Linked DNA regions of Homo sapiens. The protein of the gene in region 1 interacts with the protein of each later gene in a pairwise test. Each region holds a gene or a part of one and is shown in the gene's direction. Other genes may lie near its edges.

Region 1 (5,801 bases):
GTCCCATTTGCCCACTGAGCATCCTGTGTTCTCATGGTGGCTCTAACTCCAGAAGATTTTAACACAGTCTCATCAAACACTGCTTTCAGGGAGGAATTTACACTGAGGTTAAAAGGACTGTTGAGGACTAATGCTAACAGAAGCTAACATTTATTGCGTAGGACAATACACTAAACACTTCACATGTATTATCCCATTTAATCCTCACAACAACTGCTACCCCCATTTTACAGATGAGGGAGTGGAGAGCTCAGTAACTTGCTCGAGGTCTCACAGTGGATCTTTCCAAAGCTGAAGCCTATGCTTGTTTTCAACAGCAATGATTTCAAACAAGAGTATATACATTTGTGTGTGTGTGCGTGGTAAGATATACAAAAAATTTGCCATTGTAACTATTTTGAAGTGTACAATTCAGTGCCATTAAGTACATTCACAATGCAGTGTAACCATTACTATCTAGTTCCAGAACTTTTTCACTGTCCCCAAAGGAAATCCTGTACCCATTAAGGAGTCACTCTTCATTCCCCTTCCTTCCAGTCTCTGGCAACCACTAATCTGTCTTCTGTTTCTATGGACTTGCCTGCGCTGGATATTTTATGTAAATAGCATCATACAATATGTGGCCTTTCGCACAATACGGCTGGCTTCTTTCACTTAGCATAATGTTTTCAAGTGTCAGCCTAGCGTATTATGTAATAGTACCTTATTTCTCTTTATGGCTGAATAGTATTCTGTTGTATGGATACTATACTTTTTGTTTATCCATTCATCAGTTGATAGACAGGTGTGTGTATGTTAAGAAACAGCTAGCCTTTATCTTCAAGAACTGAATCTCTAAGGTAGGATTTCAGGCCTGATGTCAAGCTGGGAGAAAAGAGAGTTGGAAGCAGGTGCTCCTTTTCAGGACTTCCAGGTAACAGCTTGGAAATTACTTATTCCTGGGCTCGCTCTGTGGGCATGGCAAGGCAGGAGGTATAGTAGCACCTGTTCCCCATGGATGTAAATGGCTTCCAAAGTACTTCTGCATAGTAGAGAGGTTAGTAGAGGAGGGCCTTTGATAGGCTCCTGGAATGTAAGCTCACACTTTCCATCCTACCCTCTTCTCCCGGCATTTCACAGGGTAGGGGGTAAGAAGAGGCACGGGGCAAACACTGGGGGCCTTGAGAAAATATTTGGGCTCCCTGACACAGGATGTTGGTATAAACATGATGGAGGAGAAATAGAGGTGGCCCCTTGGATAATTTAATCCCCCACTCAGCCCAGCCCCTTTCTGAAGTGGTTGTCCTGGATTCTCCATAACATGCATGCATACACACACACACACACACACACACACACAGAATTAATTATGCAACTTATTTGGCTTGCCCAAGCTTTTTTTGTAAGTTCTGTAGTGGTTCAGAAGGAAGATTTTAAAAGCAGCAAGACCTGTATTCAAATAATACCTCCACTGCCTACGAGTTCTACAAATGCAGGTATGTTTCACAACTTCAGGTTTTTTTTACCTGTAAGATGAGAAGCGTTGCAATAGTATCAAACTGGAATGGAGTTTGATACATAGTATGGCGCCTAGAAGAAGCAATCTCTCATGTTATTATTAAAGGTTGAGGTTATTACTAAAGATTTCCATTGTCAGCATGAACTGAGATTTTATGGAAGAGTGGGCTAAGAACCAAGACTGCGAATTCTAGGTTAAAAAAAAATTTAAACCGTGTACTCAAATGGTTCAAATTTATCCCATCATCTTGCGTTCCTGTAGACTCTGCCTAGTTGCTGAATCTTTTGAATTTGGGGTGAGGAAGGGGAAGCAACCACACATTTTCTCATTTGAAAAATTTTTATTTTGGCACCCACTTGAGTACCTGGCACGGTGGGGCTGTCCTCTATGGGGGCAATGGAGTATTAGTGAGGGCATTGTGGCCCTGGCCTGGGGGATGAGAACAAAGGGGTATGTGACAGCAACAGGTCACAAAGGGAAGCAGAAGATAAATATGGCTGCACAGGGGGTTTAGGCAGAGAGGGTCGTCACTTCCTGTCACTAGGACTACAGTTTGTAGTCTCTCTCAGGGAGAGAGACTACAAACTGTAATTAAAAAAATCAGAGGTGGAGGTCAGGGGGTTAGGTCCAGAAGAAAACCTCTCTGGAGCCCACCCTGCATCTCTACGTCTTGGAAGAGTCTGGAGTCCAGGCACCCTACAGCACCCCCCACAGCAATCATCCGTGCTCCCACCCCCACCCCGGCCTCTGGGAGGCTCTGAGGCAACAGTGGGGGCCTGTGGGGTGGGGTGGGATTGAGAGACCAGCTGCAGAGACATCTTTGTGACCCAGGAGCACCACTGGTCCCTCATCTGCCACCGAGGCCAAGGAAGACCCAGAGACCTGCCTCACCAGTGCTGCCGTTGTGCTGAAAGACAACCATGAATGCTGATTTTCTGCTGCCGTATTATACGGCCCAGAGTGGCTCCAGCATGAGCATGTTCAACACCACCATGGGGAAACTGCAGCGACAACTGTACAAGGGGGAGTACGATATATTCAAGTATGCACCGATATTTGAGAGCGACTTTATCCAGATCACCAAAAGGGGAGAAGTGATTGATGTGCACAACCGTGTCCGTATGGTGACCATGGGCATTGCACGTACCAGCCCCATCCTCCCACTCCCAGATGTCATGCTACTGGCACGACCGGCCACCGGCTGCGAAGAGTATGCTGGACATGGCCAGGCCACCAAGAGAAAAAAACGCAAGGCAGCAAAGAACTTAGAGCTCACCAGGCTTCTGCCCCTGAGGTTTGTACGGATCTCTGTTCAAGACCATGAGAAACAACAGCTGCGCCTGAAGTTCGCCACTGGCAGATCTTGCTATCTGCAATTGTGTCCCGCTCTTGACACACGGGATGACCTCTTTGCCTATTGGGAAAAACTAATTTACCTCTTGCGGCCACCCATGGAGAGTAACAGCAGTACCTGTGGCATTCCAGCTGAAGACATGATGTGGATGCCTGTGTTTCAGGAAGACAGGAGGAGCCTGGGAGCCGTGAACCTTCAAGGAAAGGGGGATCAGGACCAGGTCAGCATCCAAAGCCTCCACATGGTCTCTGAGGTGTGTGGGGCCACCTCTGCTGCTTATGCTGGAGGGGAGGGACTCCAAAATGACTTTAACAAACCCACTAATGTGCTCAATGCATCCATCCCCAAAACATCTACAGAACTTGCTGAGGAGCCAGCAACAGGGGGGATTAAAGAGGCAGCAGCAGCAGGGGCAGCTGCAGGGGCAGCAACAGGCACCGTAGCAGGTGCCTTGAGTGTGGCAGCAGCCAATTCTGCCCCTGGACAGGTGAGCGCAGCCATAGCTGGGGCGGCCACCATCGGTGCAGGAGGAAACAAAGGCAACATGGCCCTTGCAGGCACTGCCAGCATGGCTCCAAACAGCACGAAGGTGGCTGTGGCAGGGGCTGCAGGCAAGTCCTCAGAGCATGTTTCCAGCGCATCCATGAGCCTTTCCCGAGAGGGCAGTGTGAGCCTGGCCATTGCAGGAGTAGTACTGACCAGCAGGACAGCTGCAGAAGCAGACATGGATGCAGCAGCGGGACCTCCCGTCTCCACCCGGCAGAGCAAGAGCAGCCTGAGTGGACAGCATGGAAGGGAGCGAACCCAGGCCAGCGCTGAAGGCTGCAAGGAGGGGAGGGAAAGAAGGGAAAAGGACAGGGCTCTCGGAAGGAGTTCCCATCGCCGCAGGACAGGTGAAAGCCGCCACAAAACAAGGGGAGACAAGATTGCCCAAAAGTCCTCCAGCAGGTCCTCATTCAGCCACAGAGCCAATAGAGATGACAAAAAGGAGAAAGGCTGTGGCAACCCGGGGAGCAGCAGGCACAGGGACTCGCATAAAGGTGTCAGCCACACGCCCATCTCAAAGGAGTCCAGGACCTCTCACAAATCTGGGAGGAGCTTATGGACCACCAGTTCCGGTTCCAGCAAGGGACTTGGCAGGGTCAGCTCTTTCCTGAGGAACGTCAGAGCCAACCTTACTACAAAAGTAGTGGGCACACCACATGGCAGAGATGTGAACGTCATGGCTAAGATGGCGGAGAGGAGCACCAACGTGGCCATCGCCGAGACAGCAGAGGGTGGCCAGGGGCTGGAGACGGTTGGTTCTATGACACCGGACATCATGGAGACAGTGACCTTTGAAGCCCATTAAATAAGACCCAGAGCTGGAAGCTGCAAAGGAGCCCAGAGCTCATGGGAGTGTCCCTGGAAAGCCTATTCCAGCGTTCTTTACTGCCGTTTAAATAAAGAATCATACATCTGAAAGTGGCTTGCTGGCTGAATTTTTGTGTCCCACAGCCCAGCAGTGACCTCACAGTGGATTCTGTGATGTCAACTGTGCTGCAGCCTGAGACCCCAGGATCCAGTCAAGGGTAGCCCCACCTCACACCCATGCTCAGCAGAGCCCAGATGAGTGCTCCAGCTTTCCTCAACCCCTTCCTGGCTTTGGTTCGCCAGGACTATGGCTGAAAGTCAGGCTGGGAGCTTGAAGCTCTACCTCCACCATCTCCCCATCCTTTTTATAAACTTGCCCCCTCCCAACCCTGGAAAATCCAAAGACGAAGCAAGAACAGAACTCTCACCCCCTTGCACTATTCATAGGAGGGAGTAAGGGAGCAGCAGCATGTGTTGGCAACCAGAACAGGGAGGAGCATTGTCTAGACTTAGCAATTCCACCCCTAAGTATACTCCCAAGAAACACACATGTTGCAGGAGACAGCCATGAGAATGTTTGTAGCAAAATAATACTGGAAACTGCCTAAATTTCCATCAACAGAATTGAGAGGGGTATATGCAGTGACAAATAAATGGCAGCTACACACATTAGCGTATTAGCATAGATAAGTTTTGCTCTTTCAAAAACTTTAAAAAGCAAATTGCAGAATAAGATATAATTCTACCTACAGGACAATTCAAAAACAAGATCAAATACAAATAATATGTTACATATTGGATACATGTTTGGTAAAACAAAACCAAGGGAGTGGGAAAAAATTCAGGACAGTGGTTTTCTCTGGGGTGGAAAGGCAAGAGATTGGATCAAGGAGGTGAACACAGTCTTTCAGTGGTGTTGGGAATTGTTTTAGTTCTTAAGGGAGGCGGTAGGTACAAGGCTGTTTATTATTTTGTTGGGTTTTGCATTTCAACATTGTGTTTTGCATTTTAATACCTCTGGAATCAGAATGGTCCTACAACCACCGTGGCAGTTCTGATGAAGTTATTGCTCCAGACATATATTCACCAATTCCTTCTCCTCAATGCTTTCATTTTTATGCATGCACAAAAGTGATCTAAGTCTGAAAGGCCCATTTTGTTAAGAATCACATGAGAATGACATTATTACCAAAAGCCTTGGGAAAGAAAGAATGATATCCCTATTTTACAGAAGAGGACACTGAGGCTCAAGAGGGTAACTTGCTCCAGTCACACAGAGGGACCTTTGCAGATCTACCAGCCCACTTCTTTATGCAAAGCCCTGTCTGAGACATGGGAAGGAGGCAAACCCAGCAAATCCAAGGAGAATCGGGCAATGCAAGAACCTGAGACTTACCAGGTTCCTACCACCATGGTCTAAAACTTTATAGAGATGAGCACCAAAATTCCTGGATTGAGAGGAGGGAATGTGGGGGCAGGGGACATGTCTGGTGGTGAGCTGCTGTGAGTTGGCTTTGGAACTTCAATGAGCTCATAGTCCTTAGTTGGCCTTATCTCAAGAGTGTCCAGACCACCCTTAAGCCATGTCTGGCTCCC
Region 2 (4,670 bases), on another chromosome or scaffold:
GTCTTTGGGGATCATAGAAATTATTGATGACACAGAACACTCATATGCCCTTAGCCTGTACAGCTGATTCAACATGGAACAGAAACACTGTCTAGAGAAAAGATTTTACGTTGTATTAAAGCAGCATGGGCTTTGGGTATTTTTATGCTTTAAAGATTACTTGCAATAATTATTTTAAATGATTTCTGCATTATGAGAATTTCCTGAAAAGCAGCATTATCCAATAACTGTTTACCCCGTACCTGGTATGATAAAGAATTATTTTCAGAAACATTTCCACAGTGTTTTTAAAAGGAAGGAACATCCCTTAGGAGATATTGTTTTAATTGTTGCTAAAATCTACTTGCTGTATTTTTCTCAGTTGTTTGATAAAATTGTATCATAAAGAATTAAATGAGTTTTTTAAGAATTAGTTAAACTATATTGTCTGGTCATATTTATTGTTCTGTTCTCTTTTATTTCAGGCAAATGGCATTAAAATTGGCCCTCAGCATGCTGCTACCAATGCAACACATGCAGGCAATCAGGGAGGACAGCAGGCTGGGGGCGGCTGCTGTTGAGTCTGTTTTTACTGTCTAGCTGCCCAACGGGGCCTACTCACTTATTCTTTCACCCCCTCTCCTCCTGCTCAGCTGAGACATGAAACTATTTGAAATGGCTTTATGTCACAGAAGACTTTAATCCGTCAAATTCTTGTATAACTTTGAATAAATGGTTAATGTTCACTTAAAAGACAGATTTTGGAGATTGTATTCATATCTATTTGCATTTGATTTCTAGGTCAATTGATGTGATTATTTTTGTTAAATGTTGTCTTGTGCCCTTAACTACGAACTGAATTGTATTAAACACTACAAAGTCATCTTGAGTATTTTAAATCGGTTTGTGTAGTTAGGTTTCCCAACATCTGTGGTTACCTAATGTTTAATATTATAGAACTGTCCTCAGAAACTTTGTCAATTTTCACGGCTATAAGGAAACAGAAGGACTCTTTTAATTCTGTATTTATCATTTACTTTCTGTATATATAGTTTAATAACCTGCTTGGGTGTAATTTGCCAAGCTTGAATTCTTTAATGCATTTGCATAAATTCTATACTGTTTAGAGCTTAAAGCTACAGAAGCATTGTTAGGAATTGCTTGGACACTGAATTTTAAACTTTTTGACATTGTTAACAAGCATGTTCATCTTTTCTTGTCACTAGTCCAAGAAAAATATGCTTAATGTATATTACAAAGGCTTTGTATATGTTAACCTGTTTTAATGCCAAAAGTTTGCTTTGTCCACAATTTCCTTAAGACCTCTTCAGAAAGGGATTTGTTTGCCTTAATGAATACTGTTGGGAAAAAACACAGTATAATGAGTGAAAAGGGCAGAAGCAAGAAATTTCTACATCTTAGCGACTCCAAGAAGAATGAGTATCCACATTTAGATGGCACATTATGAGGACTTTAATCTTTCCTTAAACACAATAATGTTTTCTTTTTTCTTTTATTCACATGATTTCTAAGTATATTTTTCATGCAGGACAGTTTTTCAACCTTGATGTACAGTGACTGTGTAAAATTTTTCTTTCAGTGGCAACCTCTATAATCTTTAAAATATGGTGAGCATCTTGTCTGTTTTGAAGGGGATATGACAATAAATCTATCAGATGGAAAATCCTGTTACAAAGTAGAAAAGCTTTAGTAATTTACTCAGTGTGGTGGTTTTATCCTTTTTTTCTTTTTCTCCCTTGGTCTATAATGAAATTGTTACAGCAGTGCAAAATAAAATCCTATGTATAAAAGTGTTCTTTTTTTTTATTATGACCACCTCTTTTTTAATGTATTTTTAGTCCACTTACAGCTTTTACATGGGTTTAAGCATGTTTTTTAAAAGGGTCAGAATGGTTAACACTCAACCCTTTTTAAAAATTTTGCTAAAATGCGACAAATCTCACCATACTGAAATTATTTTTGTTGATGGTGTAAGCAGTGTAAGCAAGTGTTTTCTCCTGAACTAGCACAAAAGCACTTATGCCTGAAAGAAAGCATAAAGAAGTTCTAACTCTGAAACTAACTACTTTCATTTCGCTCATGGCCTTCAACTTTCTACAGGTCTTCCCTGAAGATTCAGCAGTACTCTCTCAAAGGTTTGACAGTACTCTTGTGGGAAATCACCAAATGCTGTCATAGTTTTGTTTTAACTGTCTCCTTGAGGGCAGAGGGAAGGGTGAGAGAAAATCTGTTTTCATGGGTATTTGTAGTACAGCCTTTTTTTCTTTCAAGTGGCTGTATCAAATTCACTGGTCTTACTAATCACTGTCTTTACCAGTGAGTACAAAAAGTTAAGGCAACTAGGACAGGTACTGCTCTATACCAAGAAGAGAATGATTCTTTGGAAATTGTTATTTTTAAGCTTCTGTTAATTTTTCCAGAAGTTTAGTGCGTTTCTTTTCCATACTTTCTCCCCTAATTCTTTTATTTGAAGAAGAGAACTTAATGGCAAATAAACAACAAACCAGGACATGCATTTTAATACCCTAAGGAAAAATGGAACCCTCAAATATAACTCCTCCCACAACCACCCTAATGTGCCTCAGTCTGGGGCAGCAGGTGGACTTCTCAATAGTTCTTTTCCACATTCTCTACAAATCACATCTACCGTTAAGGAATATGTTATGAATCCTTTCTGTTAATTGAGAAAGCAATGTTATTGTCTGTGATTTCCAGTCTTTGCTCATTTTATTATCCCTGTCAAATAATGTAATATTGGTACCTGCAGTTGAATTTGTAATATTGTAATTGAATTTTTAGTTGATCTTCGATCAGTTTTTATAGCATCTATGGACATAGAAAATCAGTCACTGAAAAAAATAAACACAGCTTTCAATGTCTCACTCAACATGTAACATTCAAAATTGTGATCTTCATAAAGACATTGTTACCATTCGTCTTGCAAATTTAAGACAACTGAATGAAAAGCCAATTTTTTGAAAGAATGTGGCATATAATTAGATATACAACTGAAACAGGATATACAACTGCATACAATTTGTTTTTAATGATATTTTAAAATAGCCTGTTAGCAGGAAAATAGTCCCTATTTATCTGCTAATGGTCAAAAAGAGTTAGGATATAAATCGTACCAAAATGTTTCCAATCACTCAGAAAAACTGATTCATGTCTGGCTTTGCAACACCTTAAACATTTATTCTGTCATAGATAGTAAAGCCCCATCTCAGTTTATTTAGTCCTGAGGTTGGCAGCATGGGGTTTGACTATATGAGCTAAAAGATACACAAAGAGATAACGCTGTTTCATAATAAACAGGAATTGACTATACAAATAGGTAAACCAGCATATCTACCTGTATTTCTCAGAGTTTAGATGTGTGCTTTATGTTTACATTAAAATAAAGCCTAACGCCACAGTAGATCATCTCATACTGCATTCGGATGTACTAGGTATTATTATTTTTTGGTTGAAGTCACGACAGAGAACTTCATTTTATTTATTTTGTTTATTTTGGGAGACAGGTCTCACTCTAATCCCCCAGGCTGGAGTGCAGTGGCGCCGTCTTGGCTCACTGTGACCTCCACCTCCCCAGGTTCAAGTGATTCTCATGCCTCAGCCTCCCAAGTAGCTGGGATTAGAGGTCCCTGCCACCACGCCCGGCTACTTTGTATTTTTAGTAGAGACGGGGTTTTGCCATGTTGGCCAGGCTGGTCTCAGACTCCTGACCTTAGGTCATCTGCCCACCTCAGCCTCCCAAAGTGCTGGGGTTACAGGTGTGAGCCACCATGCCTGGCCAAAAACTAAGTGCCAGTCTATATATTAGTATTAATTAGTTTTACAAAATTATGAGGCCAATTCTTAAACATTGAAGGACAAAGCACCAAACTCCTGATAGAAAAATGGAGGAAAATGAGCAATTTACAAAAAACATACAAAGTGTCCCTAAAATGCATTTTTAATTCAAATGTGAGTGATGGATACATTAATTTGCTTCACTCTAGTAACCTTCTATTTATGTGTATCCCATAACAGGTATACTTTTAAACACAATAAAATTTATTTTTAAAAATTCAAACAAATGCAAATTAAAGCTCAGATGCCATTTCTCACCTATGAGACTGGAAGAAATGTAAAATACAACGCCACATTGTATTGGTGAGGCACCTTTGTGTGGTGTTGGTAGAAGTGCAAACTGGAACTACCTTTCTGGAGGGGAACTTGGCAATACCTAATAAAATTACATGTACACTTGCTGTTGGCCCAGAAATCCCACTTGTAGGAATCCGCCCAAATGATAATTCTCCAATAAAGCAAAAGCTCCATATGCACAAGGTTACTTTCTGCAGCATTGGTTGTAATTAGAAATTATTGGAAATGACTTATATGTCATTTCCACTTATAGTGATTCAATAAACTATAGTGATTCACTAAACTGTGTCCATCCACACAGTGGAGTCCTACACAGCTATAAAGAAGGGTGAGGAAGAAGATCTCCAGAATACACCAGAAACTAGTTACAAACACTGGGTGGGTACAGGATGGAAAGTAAGAAGACTGGGAATAGGATAGTTGGGACAAGAGGAGAATGTTGCTGCTTTCAGTATACATTTTTTGTATAGCTCTGACTCAACTATGGTTATGTTTCACATAACCCAAACATAATTAAAGTC

Evidence for each region. The genes of interacting proteins can lie anywhere in the genome.
Region 2: the proteins of GARIN4 (region 1) and RAB2A interact in binary tests that used the Homo sapiens proteins (3 or more experiments, as listed by UniProt).

The regions. Positions count from the first base shown.
Region 1 is NC_000001.11:212,622,460-212,628,260, forward strand, and holds GARIN4 (Golgi-associated RAB2 interactor protein 4), read left to right. Parts: upstream 1-2,014; 5' UTR 2,015-2,418; coding exon 2,419-4,203; 3' UTR 4,204-4,316; downstream 4,317-5,801. UniProt on the Homo sapiens protein: RAB2B effector protein required for the compacted Golgi morphology, probably through interaction with small GTPase RAB2B.
Region 2 is NC_000008.11:60,620,210-60,624,879, forward strand, and holds the end of RAB2A (ras-related protein Rab-2A), read left to right. Parts: intron 1-464; coding exon 465-560; 3' UTR 561-3,435; downstream 3,436-4,670.